4 separate regions of the Homo sapiens genome follow, and all the other regions are reported to be linked to region 4. Evidence: microRNA targets listed by miRTarBase, many of them from high-throughput screens and not tested one by one. Region 4 holds a microRNA gene; each other region holds the end of a gene's coding sequence.

Region 1 (4,476 bases), not on the chromosome of region 4:
GCCCTGGGAGATCCAGGGAGAACTGGGCGCTCCAGATGGTGTATGTCTGTACCTTCACAGCAAGGCTTCCCTTGGATTTGAGGCTTCCTATTTTGTCTGGGATCGGGGTTTCTCCTTGTCCCAGTGGCAGCCCCGCGTTGCGGGTTCCGGGCGCTGCGCGGAGCCCAAGGCTGCATGGCAGTGTGCAGCGCCCGCCAGTCGGGCTGGTGGGTTGTGCACTCCGTCGGCAGCTGCAGAAAGGTGGGAGTGCAGGTCTTGCCTTTCCTCACCGGGCGGTTGGCTTCCAGCACCGAGGCTGACCTATCGTGGCAAGTTTGCGGCCCCCGCAGATCCCCAGTGGAGAAAGAGGGCTCTTCCGATGCGATCGAGTGTGCGCCTCCCCGCAAAGCAATGCAGACCCTAAATCACTCAAGGCCTGGAGCTCCAGTCTCAAAGGTGGCAGAAAAGGCCAGACCTAACTCGAGCACCTACTGCCTTCTGCTTGCCCCGCAGAGCCTTCAGGGACTGACTGGGACGCCCCTGGTGGCGGGCAGTCCCATCCGCCATGAGAACGCCGTGCAGGGCAGCGCAGTGGAGGTGCAGACGTACCAGCCGCCGTGGAAGGCGCTCAGCGAGTTTGCCCTCCAGAGCGACCTGGACCAACCCGCCTTCCAACAGCTGGTGAGGCCCTGCCCTACCCGCCCCGACCTCGGGACTCTGCGGGTTGGGGATTTAGCCACTTAGCCTGGCAGAGAGGGGAGGGGGTGGCCTTGGGCTGAGGGGCTGGGTACAGCCCTAGGCGGTGGGGGAGGGGGAACAGTGGCGGGCTCTGAAACCTCACCTCGGCCCATTACGCGCCCTAAACCAGGTCTCCCTGGATTAAAGTGCTCACAAGAGAGGTCGCAGGATTAACCAACCCGCTCCCCCGCCCTAATCCCCCCCTCGTGCGCCTGGGGACCTGGCCTCCTTCTCCGCAGGGCTTGCTCTCAGCTGGCGGCCGGTCCCCAAGGGACACTTTCCGACTCGGAGCACGCGGCCCTGGAGCACCAGCTCGCGTGCCTCTTCACCTGCCTCTTCCCGGTGTTTCCGCCGCCCCAGGTCTCCTTCTCCGAGTCCGGCTCCCTAGGCAACTCCTCCGGCAGCGACGTGACCTCCCTGTCCTCGCAGCTCCCGGACACCCCCAACAGTATGGTGCCGAGTCCCGTGGAGACGTGAGGGGGACCCCTCCCTGCCAGCCCGCGGACCTCGCATGCTCCCTGCATGAGACTCACCCATGCTCAGGCCATTCCAGTTCCGAAAGCTCTCTCGCCTTCGTAATTATTCTATTGTTATTTATGAGAGAGTACCGAGAGACACGGTCTGGACAGCCCAAGGCGCCAGGATGCAACCTGCTTTCACCAGACTGCAGACCCCTGCTCCGAGGACTCTTAGTTTTTCAAAACCAGAATCTGGGACTTACCAGGGTTAGCTCTGCCCTCTCCTCTCCTCTCTACGTGGCCGCCGCTCTGTCTCTCCACGCCCCACCTGTGTCCCCATCTCGGCCGGCCCGGAGCTCGCCCACGCGGACCCCCGCCCTGCCCCAGCTCAGCGCTCCCTGGCGGCTTCGCCCGGGCTCCTAGCGGGGAAAAGGAAGGGGATAACTCAGAGGAACAGACACTCAAACTCCCAAAGCGCATGATTGCTGGGAAACAGTAGAAACCAGACTTGCCTTGAAAGTGTTTAAGTTATTCGACGGAGGACAGAGTATGTGAGCCTTTGCCGAACAAACAAACGTAAGTTATTGTTATTTATTGTGAGAACAGCCAGTTCATAGTGGGACTTGTATTTTGATCTTAATAAAAAATAATAACCCGGGGCGACGCCACTCCTCTGTGCTGTTGGCGCGGCGGGAGGGCCGGCGGAGGCCAGTTCAGGGGTCAGGCTGGCGTCGGCTGCCGGGGCTCCGCGTGCTGCGGGCGGGGCGGGCCCGGTGGGGATTGGGCGCGGCCGAGGGGGTGGGGCTGGGCGCATGCGCGCTGAGGGCCCTCCCAGAAGCAGGAGCGCCCCATTGGCGACCCCTGGGCACCTGGCGGCCCAGGCCCGCGGGCAGGAGGCGGGACCCGTTTGGGCGGGAAACCTGCGGCACTTGTGGCGGTTGAGCGGCGGACTCCGGCCTAGGGTTATGCGGGCGAGGGCGCGCCCCGCTCCCGGAACCAGCCTTGGCCTGGCGCCTGCCGAGCCCCGAGCCCCACTCTCGCTCGGCGCCGCGGGCCCTCCCGGCGCTTCCTTCCCCAGCGGTCCGCGGCCCTGGGTGAGGCTCGAAGCCCCGCGCGCTGCCCCTGGCCCTGCAGCACAGCAGTGAGGCCAACCCCGGCCAGAGCGGGCGGCCGTGACGGGCCGTGCCCCGCGCTGTCCCCGGAGTGGATGCGCGACGTGATCAATCCGCGGCATTTATTAATTCCACAGTCTAGACAGAGGCGGGGGCCGGGCGGCGGCTGCTTATCTGCGTTTGGCATCACCTGCAAGCGATACACCGAGGGGCCGCAACGAGCCCCCGCTAGGAGCGCGGCTGCCGGGAAAATAAGTCCACCCAGAACCAGTCTGGCGTGTCCTTGGTTTATTTTCTTTCCAGACCGAAGTGGAGGGGGTCGGGGGTGGCCCGGGTGGGAGGGAGCTGGGAATGGCCCCTGGATATGCCGTGCCCAGGTCACTTGGTGTGACATTTCAAACCCCTGCGACTTGTTTTCTTGAAAACTGGCTTTAGTGATCGCAGGAAATAACCGAGAGATACTGAATCTCCAGTAGGCCTCCGGGCAACCGCGCATACACAAAAACAAAAAACCCCAAAAGAAAGAAAGAAAAAAAACCCACGGAGGCTCAGGTTTTACTCTTTACAAATATTTAACCCTTTGGCAGCCTGGGACAGTTCTTTTCCAAGACCAGCCTTCACTTAGTGGACTGAGGGAGCTTCCCGACTACCAGTTAGTCCACCGCTGTTGTAAGAACATCTGGCGTTGAGTTGTCGTTTCCCTGTCCCTCGAGTTAAGCGACCCACAAGCATATCCTTCTTTGTCCAAGGTTTGTTTTGAAAGTGGGCAACGCCCTAACTGGGTAGGGGATAGTTGCCATCTTAGCTTAGGTAGGGGCTGGCAAGGAAAACGTGTCTGGGGGGCCCTGTAGTCTTCAGATAGAAAAGTAGGTGCCTTCTGTTAGCCATGGCTGCTTGGATGGCCAAAGGCCACTGTGGGTTTTTCAGCAGCGCTTTTAGCAGAATTCCTTCACACTGCCCCCACCCCACTTGCAGATGATGGAAGGCTTGCTGGCAATTACTGAAAGAAAATGGGAGGTGGGAAAATGGAGCTGCATTTATATTTTACTTCCTGAATGTCAAGGTGATGCTGGCACAAATATTAAAGGGAACATTCCCCTTCTTTGGGATATAGGAAATGCTGCTGCAAACTTAGAGATAAGGGAAGAGATATGCAGAGTTAATGAGGACCAGCTTTACCTCTCAAGTGCCCAGAAATGGCTTTAATAATCAGGTCTGGGTTCTTTGAGGCTTCCTTTCTTTAACTTAGACCATTCCTTCCCAACAGAAATACAGATTTCTCCTTTTACCTTCTGGCTGGCCATTAGATAGGGGGCTAAAACTTCGAATAAATCTCACTGTCAAAAACTTTTGATTTATCCAGAATATTTGGGTTTTCTCATTTTTTTTAAAAAGGAAATAACAGGTTATTGAATAAAGAATTTCATTAATGGTTAATTAGCTCTGAATTTTTGCTTTTGACAGATTGCAGCGTTTTAACGCTATGAATGGAAACGTCTACATTAGTTATCTCAACATCTAATTAGTTATCTCTTTCCTCATCATCCATGAATCAAAAATCAAATTCCTCTTTTTGTTATTTATATGATTGTGTCTGTCTTTTTTGAATATTGGGAAGTTACCTAGATAAAAGTGGTTATTGTGTGTTAAGATTCCTGCATCTCTCTGTATCACTGTACAAAACATTACAAGCTTTTCTCTTCCATAGTTGCTACCCACCCAAAGGGGTGCATCGTTTTCTATGTGGGTTTCCAGGGAAAGGATTCAACTCTGAAGCCTTATTACAGTGGTCCCTAGTGAGGTGTCACATCTACGCTTGGTTAGTTACATTAATAAATATCAGTTTTACGGGTTCCCAAGTCATCTTTAAACATCTTTTGTAATACAGTAGGGATTTCCCCATAAATTAAATTACCTGTAACAATGACAAGTGTTGTATTTTATACTTACTGAACTTTTAATATGAGATACCCAATTGCATAGTAAAAAATTCAATAAAAGAGGCCATAGGTGGAAAGTGGGAGTTATTTAGCTAGATTCACTTTAGAATACGATTTTCTCAGAAGACTTAACTATTAATTTGGATAGCTCTATGCAATTGAGGAAGGAAAGGGATTCCCAGAGATAGACAGTTTATGGCTATAAGTTTTTACACAAAATTTAATACATATTGAAAGACTGCATAATTC
Region 2 (4,476 bases), not on the chromosome of region 4:
ACTCAAATTTGTATGAAACCACCAATTCAGGGACGCATACAGAGTGACTGCTCACAGAAATCTGGAGTCCTACAGCAGGCCGGCCAGGGACACTGTAGGACAGAATCAAATCAGCCCCCTTTCCTGCCTAGCAACTAGCACCTGAAAAGTCTGACCTGACCTTGAGATGGAGCAGAGACCCTCTTTTTTAATTTTTTTTTATTTTTATTTTTTGAGACAGAGTTGTTGCCCAGGCTGGGGTGCCATGGCGCGATCTCGGCTCACTGCAACTTCTGCCTCCTGGGTTCAAGTGATTCTCCTGCCTCAGCCTGCCGAGTAGCTGGGATTACAGGCATGCACCACCATGCCCGGCTAATTTTGTATTTTTAGTAGAGACAGGGTTTCTCCATGTTGGTCAGGCTGGTCTCAAACTCCTAACCTCAGGTGATCCACCTGCCTCGGCCTCCCAAAGTGCTGGGATTACAGGCGTGAGCCACCACGCCCAGCCTCAGAGACTCCACTTAGGAGCCTGCTGGGTTCTGCCCATCACTTGAAAAGCATGAGAATAAACAAAAATGTGAGTCCCTCCCAGGGAAATTCCAGGCACCTAGCTAGCTCTACAACCATGAATTGGGGAAATGAATGAATAACCCGCTAAGCAAGAAAGTAATAATAGCTTAAACAATAGTCACTCAAGTAGTAGTCACAGAATGTTAGCTTCCTCATAGAAACTAAAGATAACATCTTTTTGTTTGTTTTGTTTTTTGGGTTGTTTGTTTGTTTTGAGACAAAGTCTTACTCTGTTGCCCAGGCTGGAATGCAGTGGCACGATCTCAGCTCATTGCAACCTCCGCCTCCCAGGTTCAAGCAATTCTCCTGCTTCAGCCTCCCTAGTAGCTGGGACTACAGGGGCCCGCCACCACACCCAGCTAATTTTGTATTTTTAGTAGAGATGGGGTTTCACCATGTTGGCCAGGCTGGTCTTGAACTCCTGACCTCAGGTGATCCACCCACCTCGGCCTCCCAAAGTGCCGGGATTACAGGCATGAGCCACCATGCCTGGCCTAAAGATAACATCTTGACATATATCCTTGAGTTGTTTTTCAGGAGCCAGGACCCCCACCAATGTCACCACGTGACAATGCCAGCACGTAGACCTCAGACAGACTGGAACCAGAAAATGGATAAGGAAGTTCCAGAAATTCCTCAGCCCCTAACTCCCTTTGAAACCTCCCCACCCCTGCCTTAAAAACCCTTGCTTAAAAGCCATCAGGGAGTTTGAGCCTTAGCTGCCCATTCTCCTCGCCTGGTGCTCTGCAATAAACGCCTTACTTTCTCTGGCTGCAAATCTCACTGTCGGTGTTAGGCTTTGCAAACACTGGGCAAGTGGACCCAGGCTGGGTTTGACAACAACCTCAAAGAAGGCTGAAACCCTGGTGTGTGGAGTGTGGAAGCTGAGTGCTGTCTTAGCTGCAGGGAACAGCCTCCCCTCCCAGAGGCTCCTTCATCTGTCCAACCTCTGAAGGACTACTGGAGGCACAGTCCAAGTATAACCAAAGTCCGTTTAACACCCAGCACCCCTCAAAAGAGCTCATAGTGCTTGCTGTAGTTTCATAAAGGCCCAGGTGGTGAGAAAGATTAGGTGTTGCTGGGCCCATCTAGGAGGGCAAGTGACCAAGAACATAAATCTTGGGACCAAGCTGAGAGCATTCCACCCACCACAGTTCTCTGGAGCTTCGGCCCACCACCCAGAGAATTAGCCCAACTGCCTGGGTATGCTCAGGGAAGAACTGAGGCAGGGGGCCAGAGCTCAGCAAGCTGGGCATGTGGCCTGTGGCCAGAGCCCCACCCACAGCCCCCCGTCCTTCTAGGGAGGAGAGCATGCTGCTCCTCCTGACATGTCGCAGCTCCCCCAGAAAAAGTAACACTCCCCAGCCACCAGTTCTAAAACCAAATCTTTATTCTCTAGTTTGAAAAGGAGGGGTAAATGGTTGTTCTGTTTAGTTCCAGAGAACAGAACAAGGCCCAATAGGTAGAAATTATAGGAAAGCAGAATTCATTCATTATAAGGAAGGATTTCTAACAATTAGAATTTCTAACAATTAGAATCATCCAGGGCCTCAGGAGGTGCGGAAGTTCCTGTCACCTAAGTGCTCAAGCAGAGGCCAGGTGTCCATATGCTAGAAATGGAGAAAAGGAAACTCACCAGCAACTTCCCCTCAGCTGGCCCTCCATCACCAATGCGGCAGTCCTTGCCGTGACATGCTGAGCTCTGGAAGGAGCGAAGGAGGGGCTGCGGTGTTCAGACAAGAGCCTGGACACAGTGCTGCTGACAGCCAGGGGAGGCTCTCAGCGCTGGGAGGGGCGACAGATAAAGCGAGACAGACCAAGGAGTAAATGCCTTGGGATCTGCTCTTTGGGAAGGAAGAGGATGGAAGTATTAACAGCAGACGGGTCTCTCCAAGTCTGGGTGCCTACGCAGGGGGCAGGTGGGAGGGGAAGGGAGAGGTAAGAGTGGCTTCGCTTCACCTCTTGCTGCTGGCAAAGGCCCAAGTGCTGTCTAACAAGGCCAGCAGGTTCTCCAAGCTGTATCTAGCCCAGAGCATTCATTTACAGGACTCTACCACGCCTGCTTCCAAAAATGATCTTAAGTAACTTACAGTAAAAGACAGGGGCATTAAGGCGTTAATACCAGAGGATGGAGGGTCTTCCTTTCCACTGGTGGCTCCTCTAGCCAGAGGGCTCTAAGGGGCGGATGCTATTGCTGCTTTTCCAGGGCACAGGGCAGTCAGGACGGAGCCTTAGCACACACCAGCTGGAGGCCGGCGTCCCTGCGCTTGGAAGTGGGTTCCCTGGCCACCGGGGTTGACCTCTCTCGCTAGCAGGGCCCACCCAGCTCACTCCCCGCGTCTTCCATCCCCTCTAGGATTCCCATTGTCCCCTACTCCAGCACTAGGCAGGCACCCCCAGCCCACTGCGACTCCCACCACGAAGGACCCCAGCCCTCTCTCAGCCAACACGGCCCCGCCCACCGTCTCAGACATCGTGCTTCTTCTGGTGGGCCAGGAGTCTCTCCTCGTCGTCGAAGGTCTGGCCACAGATGGCACAGCAGAAGGCGCCGTCCCGGATGTGGCTCTTGCGGTGGGTGATGAGGTTGGACTTCTGGCTGAAGCTGCGGTCGCAGTCGGGACAGGCGTAGGGCCGCTCGCCCGTGTGGATGCGCCGGTGCGACACCAGGTTGGACTTCTGGCTGAAGGCTTTGCCGCAGTCGGGGCAGACGTAGGGCTTCTCGCCGGTGTGGATGCGCCGGTGCGCCGCCAGGTAGGGTTTGTGGCGGAAGGCCTTGCCGCAGTCGGGACACACGAAGGGCCGATCGGGGGCGTGGTCGCGCCGATGCGCCGCCAGATGGCTGCCCTGGGAGAAGCGGCGGCCGCACTCCTCGCAGGCGAAGGGCCGCTCGCCGGAGTGCACGCGCGAGTGCGCCACCAGGTGCGTCTTCTTGCCGAAGTTCTTCCCGCACTCGGCGCAGGTGAAGGGCCGCTCCCCGGTGTGCTGCCGCTGGTGGGCCCGCAGGAAGCGCTCCAGCCGGAAGCTCCTGCCGCAGTCGTCGCAGCTGTAGAGGGAGGGGGGGGCTTCGATCGGGTCCTGCGGGTGCTCTGGCGGGGCCCCTGGCGGCGGCTCCTGGGCCGGTTTCAGAGGTACCGCCGGGGTGGGCTCGGCCGCGGACTCCTGGGGGCCGGCTGGCAGCTGGGGGCTCCCCGGGCCGGGGGCGGCCTGGGCCGACCCCTCGGATCGCTTGTGAATCTTGCTGTGAGACAGCAGGTTGGGTTTGTGCCGGAAGCGGCGGCCGCACTCTTTGCACGGGTAGGGCTTCTCGCCGGTGTGGATGCGCCGGTGCGAAGTCAGATAGGGCTTATTGGTAAAGCGCTTCCCGCACTCGGGGCACTGGTGGGGCCGCTCGCCCGTGTGCACGCGGCGGTGAGCGATCAAGTTGGGCTTGTGCCGGAAGCGCTTGCCACAACAGGCACACTGGAAGGGGCGGTCGACGGCATCTCCACCGGGCCGGGGGGCGGTCACCGCGGGGCGGCCCCTGGGCCGGGGCCCCAGAGCCTTGGCTGCGGCCTCCTCCAGGGCCTCAGCTACGTGCACCCGCTTGTGGGCAACTAGCTGGTCCCACTGGGCAAAGCTCCGGCCACAGTTGCCGCATATGAAGGGCCGGGCCTCCGGGGCGGGAGGGTGGCACCGCCGCAGATGAGCTCGAAGCTGCTTTCGTCGCCAGAAGCGTCTCTCGCATTTGGGACAAGCGATGGGCCGCTTTGCAGCTGAATGGGCCCGCAGATGCAGAACCAGGGCCACCCAGCCTCGGAAGCTCTGCCCACAGAGGTGGCAGGCAAAGCCCAGGTCTGGGGTGGCAGCAGCATGGACCTGGCGGTGCAGTGCTAAGAAGGGGGCATGGCGAAAGCGACGGCCACACTCAGGGCAGGGCAAGGGCAGCCG
Region 3 (4,476 bases), not on the chromosome of region 4:
TGATCCTGGTAGGAGAGAACAGAGTGGTGCAGAAATGCCTACACATCTGGCAGGATGTGGTGATGATTGAATGAAGACAAACAAACGGAAGGTGCCGAAAGCTGAAGAGTTTGAATTGGGAAGAGTTCTTCCATTGGTTCTATCGGGGTTGACCTAGCATTACAAGAGTGAGTAAGACTTCTGGTTGATGTAGGTGATGGGAGAGAGCCTTTCAGTGCAAATTACCAAGGTTAGCAGAGCTATAGTAGTGAAAAGGTACAGCCTTTTTGGTCCCCATGCTTAGAAGTAAACCTCTACTTACCCGTATCTATCAGTGATGTGTCTTCCTGGTTTCCTCATGGGGAATATTGAAGCTCTTTCATTACCTTTAGGTTGCTGGTTCCTTGAGATCAAGGACTATGTATTTTTCTCCCTTTATTACTACTCATGATGCCTGGGAGAATGCTTTCTTATGTAGTGATTGAAATTCTTGTATCATTACAAACTGTGTTTTTGGTAAGTTTGCATCCCTAAGAAACTCTTTTCAGTAACGATTTCCACAGTCCTTCATATGATCTTGAAATATGATGCCTACATCTTTGTTTACCTGCCCAGATATTGATCAGTATGGTAACTCTGCTCCAGTGGTTGCTTGTGTGTTTCAATCACGCATGATTCTTATTGGCCACATTGGGGCAGGAGGCGGCACATTAGAGGGAAGAAAAGGAGCACCCAAAGGCTGATCAGAAGAAGCCAAACCAGCCTAGTTGGTGGGGAAGTTAGTAAAGGTGGCAACAAGTTATATATGGGCATAAAAAAAAAAAGACAATAAGCCCTTGAGATACTGTGTAAGCCTAAATGATGCAAATTATGGAGCACGATGGAAGGAAAAATACAAGTGGGAAGATTATCAAGAAGCCTCAAAATGAGTCAAATCAGATTCATGGCTGAACCACTCTAAAAATATTTACTTGACGTTGAAATTTAGTACTGACAGCTGAAGTTGAAAAATCTTTGTTATATTTCTGTTTTGTGTTAAAATGAAGATGACACCCAAGCTATCACTTTGTTCCCTTGGAATCCTAGGGTACACATGCCTTGTCACGTCAGAATGATTGATTTTTCCTTTGGCTTTCTCACTACAGGAAATACCAGAAATAGCCCACCACCCTACGGGTTTCATCTCTCACCAGAAGAAATGAGGAGACAGCGGCTTCACAGATTCGATAGCCAGTGAGGTGGCATCTTGGGAAGACATGGCCTATTCGTGTAATTATTGCCCATTTGGCTCATTCCCCAAGCCCCTAATTCATTTTAATTCATTTTAAACAAAAGCAGAGTACACCGGTATTGCTCCAGATCGCTCACATCACCTGGGACAGTCCCATGGCCCCTATGAGTCAACTCACAGCTTGCGGGGAGTGGGCCTTCTCCTGGCCTTGTTCTTGCTCATAAACAGGTCACTTCCTCCATGAAGAGACCAGTTTCCACGCTCCCATCTCTCACTGCTGACTCAGCGATGCCTCTGCCTCGGTCTGCTTTTGAAGACTGTGACCTTCACCAGGAGGTTTTACTTACACCAGTCGGGAAGATTAGTCCCTCATTCTGCCTGGAGTGCCCCGTGTTTGACTTGGCAGCGGGTGTGGAGCCATCCCCGCGTCCTCCTGGCGCATTGCCACTGTGGCTGTCCAGGAACAGGATGTGGCTGCCTTGGCCGAATGTTGTCCTACTCTCCCCAACCCCGGCGCCTCAGCTCCTCAGCTCCTCGGGCCCCTGCGTCTGGCTGGTGTTTGCAGGGCTTTCGCTCTGCTCTGGTATTGCTCTGCCTTTATAGAAAGTCTTATTGAAGAAGTGTAAGAAAGACCTAAGGTGGGGAAGACTCCTACACACACCATTAGTATCAGTGACACCAGCAATGTAGGTTCCCAGCCCCTTCCCAGTGGCAGCTTGTGTGTCCAGGAGATAGGACATCATTTAACGCATCAGCAAAGTAGCAGCAGATGCCACATACAGAGTAGAGCGAAGGCATTTGGTGGATCGGTCACTAGAGATCTATCTTGCAGAAAGTATGTTTTTCCTCATAAAAGTGCCTCTTAATTGGCCATTGTACCAGCCACTTGTCCTAGCCAAATGTCCAAAACACGCCCTTGGGCCCCGCCACGTTACAATCCACAGATTGTCTGTCTGAGTCGTTTAAGGCATTTCCTGGTGCTTGTGTTCCATGAATAAAAGGACAAAGTCAGAAGATCACTGATGTCTTACTGTCAACAGAGATATTTTAAAAGAGAGAAGCAGGAAAAGATCTTCCTTTTTTGATCTACAACTTATATAGTTTTCTGATTATGCACATAATAGATATGCCTTCCAGATGCATAAGGCAAACATCTGGAAAGAAATATACCCAAATCTTAGCAGGGGTTATCTTTGGGAGTGGAGTACATGGGATTTTGCTTTCTTCATTTTTATAATTTTATATTACTGTCTTGGAAGATGTGTTTATGTGTGTGTGTTACTTTTACAATCAGGAAAACATATTTAATAACATATAGTCAAGAAAACAGACTTAAAAATAAATACTATGTGTCCATTGAGAAAATTCACAATATAAACAGAAATACAAATAAATACATACACAATTTTAAAGTCACCTGTAGCCCTACCCTTAGAGGTACCCAGGGTTAACATTTTGGTGGTATTGTCTTATCAATTTTTCCGTTGATACATTCAGCAAATTTGGAGCACATTGACCATGGAGTTTTGTGTCCAAATCCAATCTGAATTTACCTGGAAGAGGCCTTGACACCTGCATGGAAATGAGCTAAGAAAACCACTGGAGCCTTGGGAGCTCTTTGGCCTCCTGGCTGGCCCAGTAATATCTGAGCTCCTTTGGTTAATTTATAACTGATATAAAACTACATCTTCTTTATAATATAAATTGTACCTGTGAGTCTAGAAGCTTTAAATGTGTTTAAATTAAAATATTCAAGCTAAATGTTACTGCTCTCTCCCAAATTCTGTAAGTTTGACTCCCGTTACCCCAATTAGAAGTAACTTCTTTGTTTCATGCCACTTTTATAGCATTTGGTAATTCTGCTATAACACATCTTGCCCCTATTATTAACTGTGCACAGCTACACAAAGGTGTGCCTTCTACGTGGGAACATGGATTGTGAATGACTCTGTAATGAGGCCTGAGTCTTAGTTATCTTTCCACTCACTCCCCGTCTCCCCTTTCCAACCCCAAAGGCTCACGATAGGGGCTCACTAAATGTCAGTGTTTCACCAAAGTATTTTTTCCATTGTATTAAGAGTCCAGTCACTGTATATGGAAGTATTTTATTTTTTATTTTTTTATATCACTTGAGTCCACTAGTAGTACTTCCTTGCTCTGTTTGACTTGTCAGATACAAAGACACGGGATTAGATTTTGGGTGGTAAAATTGTGATACGCATGGCTGTTGATGGAGTGGAACATCTTAGTGATGTGAGAAAGGTCATTTTAGTTATAAATGTAAACCAATTACTTTAGCACAACAATAAAGATGTTCTGGAAATTATTATAATTATTTTAGTTAATGGACTTGCCTGTAACAAGTGCTTATGTTTGGAATGTCCATTTTATTTTATTTTCCTCTACAATAAGGAATCCCTAAAGTTATGCCAACAAACTGGAATTGGATTGAGAAAGACAAAAGCAAGTGAGCAAGTGTATTAGACTAATTATCTCTAGTAGGGAATAAGCACTTAGAGCTAATTTTTTAATTTGGTTTATTTATTAGTAGCTCCCTGATTGTCTGTTAAGCCCCTGGTTCCCACAGTTTGGTGTGGTCAGTCAACTTAAGCGACCTTTTAATGCAGAATCTTTACTTGGTTCTGAAGAGGAGGCAGTAGTTAAAATTGCTTCCTCTTAATGACTCTGAATGTATTGCCTGTGATTCCAAAGTTGTACATAATTGTTCAGACCTCCTCCATCCTTTTAAATTGCCTGCTGCAGTAAATAACTAGTTTGAGTAGAACTAGATCCTGTCTATCTATTTGGCACATGTTCTGCTGCCTGGGGAGTAAGCAAGCTAAAGGGATGAGAAAGACCACCTCCCCCTACCCTGGAAATTGCACTGCAAGGCAGGGCGAGAATGGGGTAGCTGGCAGACCTGGCCTCCTTGTTCCCAGTCTTAGTTTTTCTTGAGAGATTCAGTATTCAGTAAAGAATAGCATTCAATTAGTCAAAAAATATATATATAACTTCTTCCTTTCCCTTCCCATGAATCATTGCAGTCATTCCCTAAGTTTCTTCTCTTTTTTTTTCATGGCTGCTAGTATTTTATTTTAGAATCACAGACTCTCAGCTTAGAGAGTCACAGTATCTCAATTATTTGCTCTGTTCAATACTTAACAATACCTCCTCACTCAATTCTACATAACTCCAGCTTAGTCTTCCAAAATTCACTTTCATGATGCCACTCAGCATCTCAAATACCTTTCATTGGCTCTCTGCTG
Region 4 (4,476 bases):
CCCACAAGACAGAGTCCAATACCTACCCAAAGGGGTGCAACAGGCACCTGGCCTGCGCTGAGACACGTGGGACCTCTGGAAAAACATTTTTATAAATAAAGCATTGTGACAGTTTACATAATAGATCACAGCCATCAAACATCTTTTTACAACGTTACTAAAGATCAGCCACGTTTCCTACTAAAAGGTCAACATACACATAACAGCAAAACCAAGCCTCTGGCAAAACACCCCTACAAACGCTTCAGTACCCCAAAAGCTTGTCGTAAAGGGCGTCTCAGCAACCCCGGGAAGTAGCTTCACAGCTCTCTTCCTCCCTGGAGCACTGCAGCCTAGCAGCCGCCCAGACAGGCTTTCCCCACCCCTGCCCTGTCCAGAGTCTGACCACCAGCCCCGAACCTCACATACTTGGACAAGAAATCCTTTCACTTCTGAAGATTCTGCAACCCTGTCAAAGTGACCAATAGCTCCATTCAGAGAGGGGACGCAGGAGGGACCCACGCTCTCCTTGCAGTTCCTACTACTGCTGCCACCGCGCTGCTACAACTGCACGGCACGCGTCACCACAGGCCGGGGAGGAGCTCCCCTGCCCAGCACCCACCACGGCGGCTGGGGAGGGACGGGGAGCCCCAGACAAAAGCAGCAATGCTGGCCAGGCAATCTTTCCTGTCAAACTTGAGGGGCCCTGAGGAGTCGCAGAGACAGCAGACTAGACAGGAGCGTGAGAACTGCCAGGCGGAAGTGGCGTCGGAGCCCCAGGCATCCGCAGCATAGCCAGTATCGCCCCGAGACCCCTGCACGGAGCGAGAACATCTGCTGCCACCGCCCTCCCACTGCCCTCCCGAGGGGGCAGCAACCAGAGTAGCTAGGCGCTCCTTCCTTTAGGCACCAACGCAGCTCTGGAAGAGACAGTGACACACACGGTGCTGAAACCCTACTCCACAGCGTGGCTCTCAGCAAGGCTGCGCGCCGGGAGGACTCTCGCAGGATGCGCCTGACATCTCTCCCTGCCTGGTGGCAGCAGAGGAGCCCAAGCCTTCCATCCAGAGTTCCCGAGCCTCAAGGAGGGGGCGTCGCGCCCCCGTCCTCGCCTGGAGACTGAAGAGGCTCGAGCCCAGGGTCACCAAGGGGCAGAAAGGCTAAGTGGGGACACAGGCCACACGCCTAACTGCAGAACTGAGCAGGGGACAGCTGCTGCCACTCACAGCCCCAGGTACTGCCCTCAGCTCTGCAGACCCCATCGCCTGGCCCAGGGAGCCCCTGCGCTGAGCCTACCAACCCGGGCAGGGACGCATAGGGCGGGAGCAGGTAAGGACCACTCCACTAAGAGTCCTGGCTGAGCCACTCCGAAACAGACCAGCCCCAGGCACAGGCAGCCAGCGCGGACGTCAGGGACAGCGACAGGGACGCAGGCTATGCCGACTCCCTCTGGCTCACTCGCAGACAGCCACCCGGGCTGGCCCCGCACCTGGGTAGAGACTGCCCCTCGGCCTGCTCCAGCCACGGGCCTACGGGACAGATGACCTTAGCATTCCACCAGCGGAGAACTTCCTGGAACTGGCAGCTGGCGCTGCTGGGAGCCGCCCTTCCCTCCCGCCCCGTGCGGCCACTCACCTGGGGGCAGCTGGAAGTTCTGGATGTTGGTCGGGTTCTGAGGCGGCTGCGGCAAGCGGGGGGCCAGCACGGTGGGCGTCAGGGTGGCCCGAATCCCGCTGGTGGTGGCCGTGGGCGTCCGGGACAGGCTCTGGGTCACTGCGCCGGCCGCGCCTTTGGGCAGCCCGGTGGGGGTCCCGGGGGCGGGCGGCGGGACGGCGGCCGGGCTGGGCAGCGCCCCTTGCATAGTTGGCCCGATGACCATGCTGGCCGCCGTGCTGGCCGGGCCGCTGGCCGCCAGGGTCTGCGCCGCCGGGGGCGCCGCCTGCACCACCCTCTTGGGCGACTCGGCCTTGACCCCCGGCGCCGGCGCCGCAGCCGCCGCGCCGGGCCCGGGTTGGCCGCTGACCCCCGCGGGGCCCCCGGCGGCCGGGGCGGGGGCGGGGGCTGCCCCGGCGCTGCCCCCGTTCTGGGCGGCGGCGGGGGGCGGCACGGCGGGCGCGGCGGTCGGGGGTCCGGCGGGGTGGCCGGGCGGCCGGGCCAGAGTGGCGGGCGCGGGGGGTGGCGGGGGCGGGGCGGCGGCGGGGGCGGCGGGCGCGGGGGCGGCGGGGGGCGAGGGCGCGGCGGGCGCGGGGGGCGCGGCGGCGCCCACGAAGGGGGGCGTCTGGATGACAGTGCCGGGGGCGGCGGGCTTGGGCAGCGGCAGCAGCGCGGCGGGCCCGTTGTTGACCAGGCTGACAGCAGGTGCGGCGGCGTGGTGCGAGTTCAGCAGCGCGGCGCTCCCATTCAAAGTTTGCGCGGCGCCGGGGCCGGCGGGCTTGCCAGGGCCAGGGCCGGGGCCGGGGCCGGGGCCGGGCCCGGGGCCGGGGCCGGCGCGGGCGGCCAGCGCGGCGGGGCCGGCGGGCTTGGCGGGGCCGGCGGGGGCGGGCTCGGGCCCCGCGGCGACGGCGGCGGCGGCGGGCACCGGGGCGCAGGACCCCGCGCTGCCCTCGGGCGGCGGCCTCAGCTTCGCGGCGGGCGGCGCGGGCCCTGCGGGGACAAGGGGGCGGCGCGGTGAGGGGGGGCCCGGGCGCTGCGGCCCCCCGCCCCCCGGCCGCGCTCTACCTGCGGGGGGCGGCTCCGGCGCCGCTCCGGGCGCGCCCTCGGCGGGGGCGGCCGGCCCTGCGCCCGCGGCTCCGGCCGGGCTGCCGCTCACAACATGGTTCCCGAGCGCGCCGGCGGCCGCGGCCCGCACCTCGGGCGTGCGCGGCGCGAGGTGGTGGTGGTGGGCCGCGCTGGCCGCCAGCTGCGACTCCAGCGAGCCCACCAGGTCGCTCACCACTTTCTCGTCCACCTCGCTGTTGAAGAAGACCTCGTCCAGCAGATCCGAGCCCGCCGCCATCTTTTTTCCTCGGCCGCCGCCGCCGCCGCCGCTCGGGCCGAGCGCGCCTGGGCGAGGAGGAGGTTCCGACTGGGGCGGGCGCTGGGCGGGCGGGGGGCGGCGCGCGGCCGGCGGGGGGCGGGGGCGCGCGGCCGGGGGGCGGGGGAGCGGGGGTGGCGGCCCTGCGCAGGCGCGGAGACCGCGGGCGCCCGGCGATTGGCTGCGGCGCGCGCTTAAAAGGCGCGGCCAATGGCTGCGAGCGCTAGAGGCCGGGGCGCGGGCGGTCGGCCGGGGTGCGGCAGCAGCGGCGGGAAGCGCGGGGGCTGGAGCTCAGGGGCGCGGGCGCCGGGGCGGTGGCGGACGGGGAGGGGGCCGCCGGGCGGGGCGCGGGATGCGGGAACGGTGCGCTGGGCCGGGCCGAGGCGGGCGCGGGGCGGCGACGGGGCCTCGCTCTTTGTCTCGGCTCGCTCCAAAATGGCTGCGGCGGCGCTGACGGGAGCGCCGGGCGGGCGCCGTGCGCGGTGGCAGCGGCGGCGCAGGGCCCGTCCGAGGCCCGGGGAACAGCGCGCGGGGATGCCGGGGCGCCGCCGGGCGGCGCGCAGGCCCTGGAGTGGATGGGCCTGGGAGGCGGGCGGGAACGGGGAGGGGACTGTCGCAGCGCGCCCTGGGGACGGGGACCGGCGCCCGGCCCCTCCAAGCCGCCGCGGGGAAGCTGGGTCCGCCTCTGGCTCAGCCGGTCCCGGGCGGTGGGGAGGGGTCCTGCGCGCACGGCTCTTCTCGCCCTCCAATCGTGACCACCCCTGGCCCTTCCCTCCATTTTTAATCAATAAACCCAGCCGCCCCGGGCTGACTGTCCCCGCACCCAGCTGCCTTGGAGACAGGAGTGTCGTATAAGCCCGTAGGTAAGAGCACGGTGCTTGCCAGGCGCCAAACGAAGTTCCCGAGCCTGAAGCCGGCACGTCTGGAAGTAGCTTTTTTTACCTTCTGCTGGGGGAGGGGAGTAAGTTACCTAAAGTGTTCCCAAGCACCTTCTCTCTAGAAATACTTCAGTAAAAGTTCCAGTCCCCTCTTTCTGCGTGTTTTATTTTCCAACCAAAAGATGGTGTTATTGGACATTTCTAGTGGTTTTCCTTTCTCTCATTTCTTCCTAAGAGCCCAGAATAGGTTTCAGAGAGACGCTTCCTTGCCTCGGACCTCACTGGGGCCAAGAGGCCACAGGGTCAGTCTTCGCAGCTGAAGACAGCGCCGCAATAAGCAGAGACCTCGGGACGATGAATGACGTTGCTGACAAAGAAAATGATTTTTTTAATTGCTTTAACAAAGGAGACTGCTAGTCTCGAAAGCAGACCCGAACTGGACCCTTGTGCCTGTTCGAACTGTAGCCTTGCAAAGGAATGGACTTACTGATAACTGGAATACGGGACTTCACCCCAGGCTTGTTTCTCGACAGCAGCAGCAGCCAATGAGCATTGAGGACGGAGCCTAGGAGAGGTGCCTCCCCTATAGGGGAACAGTGTTTGGGG

The links. Region 4 holds the annotated microRNA hsa-miR-3195 (CGCGCCGGGCCCGGGUU, at 1,976-1,992, shown strand). A microRNA usually pairs through its seed, bases 2 to 8, with sites in the 3' UTR of a target mRNA and lowers its output. Matches are read on the target gene's strand: a 7mer-m8 pairs with bases 2 to 8, a 7mer-A1 pairs with bases 2 to 7 and ends in A, and an 8mer does both.
Region 1: miRTarBase lists ISL2 as a target of hsa-miR-3195. The part of its 3' UTR that is shown has no 7-base or 8-base seed match.
Region 2: miRTarBase lists REPIN1 as a target of hsa-miR-3195. The part of its 3' UTR that is shown has no 7-base or 8-base seed match.
Region 3: the mRNA of RHBDD1 is a reported target of hsa-miR-3195. Seed matches in the 3' UTR shown: 7mer-m8 at 1,721-1,727.

Annotation. Positions count from the first base shown.
Region 1 is chr15:76,340,642-76,345,117 of GRCh38, forward strand. ISL2 (ISL LIM homeobox 2) reads left to right here. Exons shown (of 6, transcript NM_145805.3): 5 at 493-660; 6 at 1,078-1,834. The coding sequence ends at 1,194. It overlaps LOC124903532, which reads right to left and starts at 2,783. Exons shown (of 1, transcript XM_047433420.1): 1 at 1,752-2,783. The coding sequence starts at 2,783. The coding sequence ends at 2,139. RefSeq lists an enhancer at 1-252.
Region 2 is chr7:150,371,485-150,375,960 of GRCh38, reverse strand. REPIN1 (replication initiator 1) reads right to left here. Exons shown (of 3, transcript NM_001099695.2): 3 at 1,922-4,476. The coding sequence ends at 3,016. REPIN1-AS1 (REPIN1 antisense RNA 1) reads left to right here and starts at 3,018. Exons shown (of 4, transcript NR_183429.1): 1 at 3,018-3,120. RefSeq lists enhancers at 2,294-2,443, 2,504-2,623.
Region 3 is chr2:226,994,307-226,998,782 of GRCh38, forward strand. RHBDD1 (rhomboid domain containing 1) reads left to right here. Exons shown (of 9, transcript NM_001167608.3): 9 at 1,125-4,476. The coding sequence ends at 1,216. It also overlaps a transcript of COL4A4 not described here. Among named protein-coding and RNA genes, the nearest start is that of RHBDD1, 160 kb to the left of the region's middle. RefSeq lists enhancers at 772-1,971, 1,151-1,652.
Region 4 is chr20:62,062,837-62,067,312 of GRCh38, forward strand. MIR3195 (microRNA 3195) reads left to right here and starts at 1,966; the gene lies at 1,966-2,049. It overlaps TAF4 (TATA-box binding protein associated factor 4), which reads right to left and starts at 3,045. Exons shown (of 15, transcript NM_003185.4): 1 at 1,615-3,045. The coding sequence starts at 2,974. LOC105372705 (a long non-coding RNA gene) reads left to right here and starts at 3,618. Exons shown (of 2, transcript XR_936960.3): 1 at 3,618-3,855; 2 at 4,106-4,476. RefSeq lists enhancers at 735-1,248, 1,249-1,763, 1,764-2,277, 2,278-2,792, 3,821-4,334 and silencers at 2,726-2,815, 3,076-3,185, 3,446-3,825.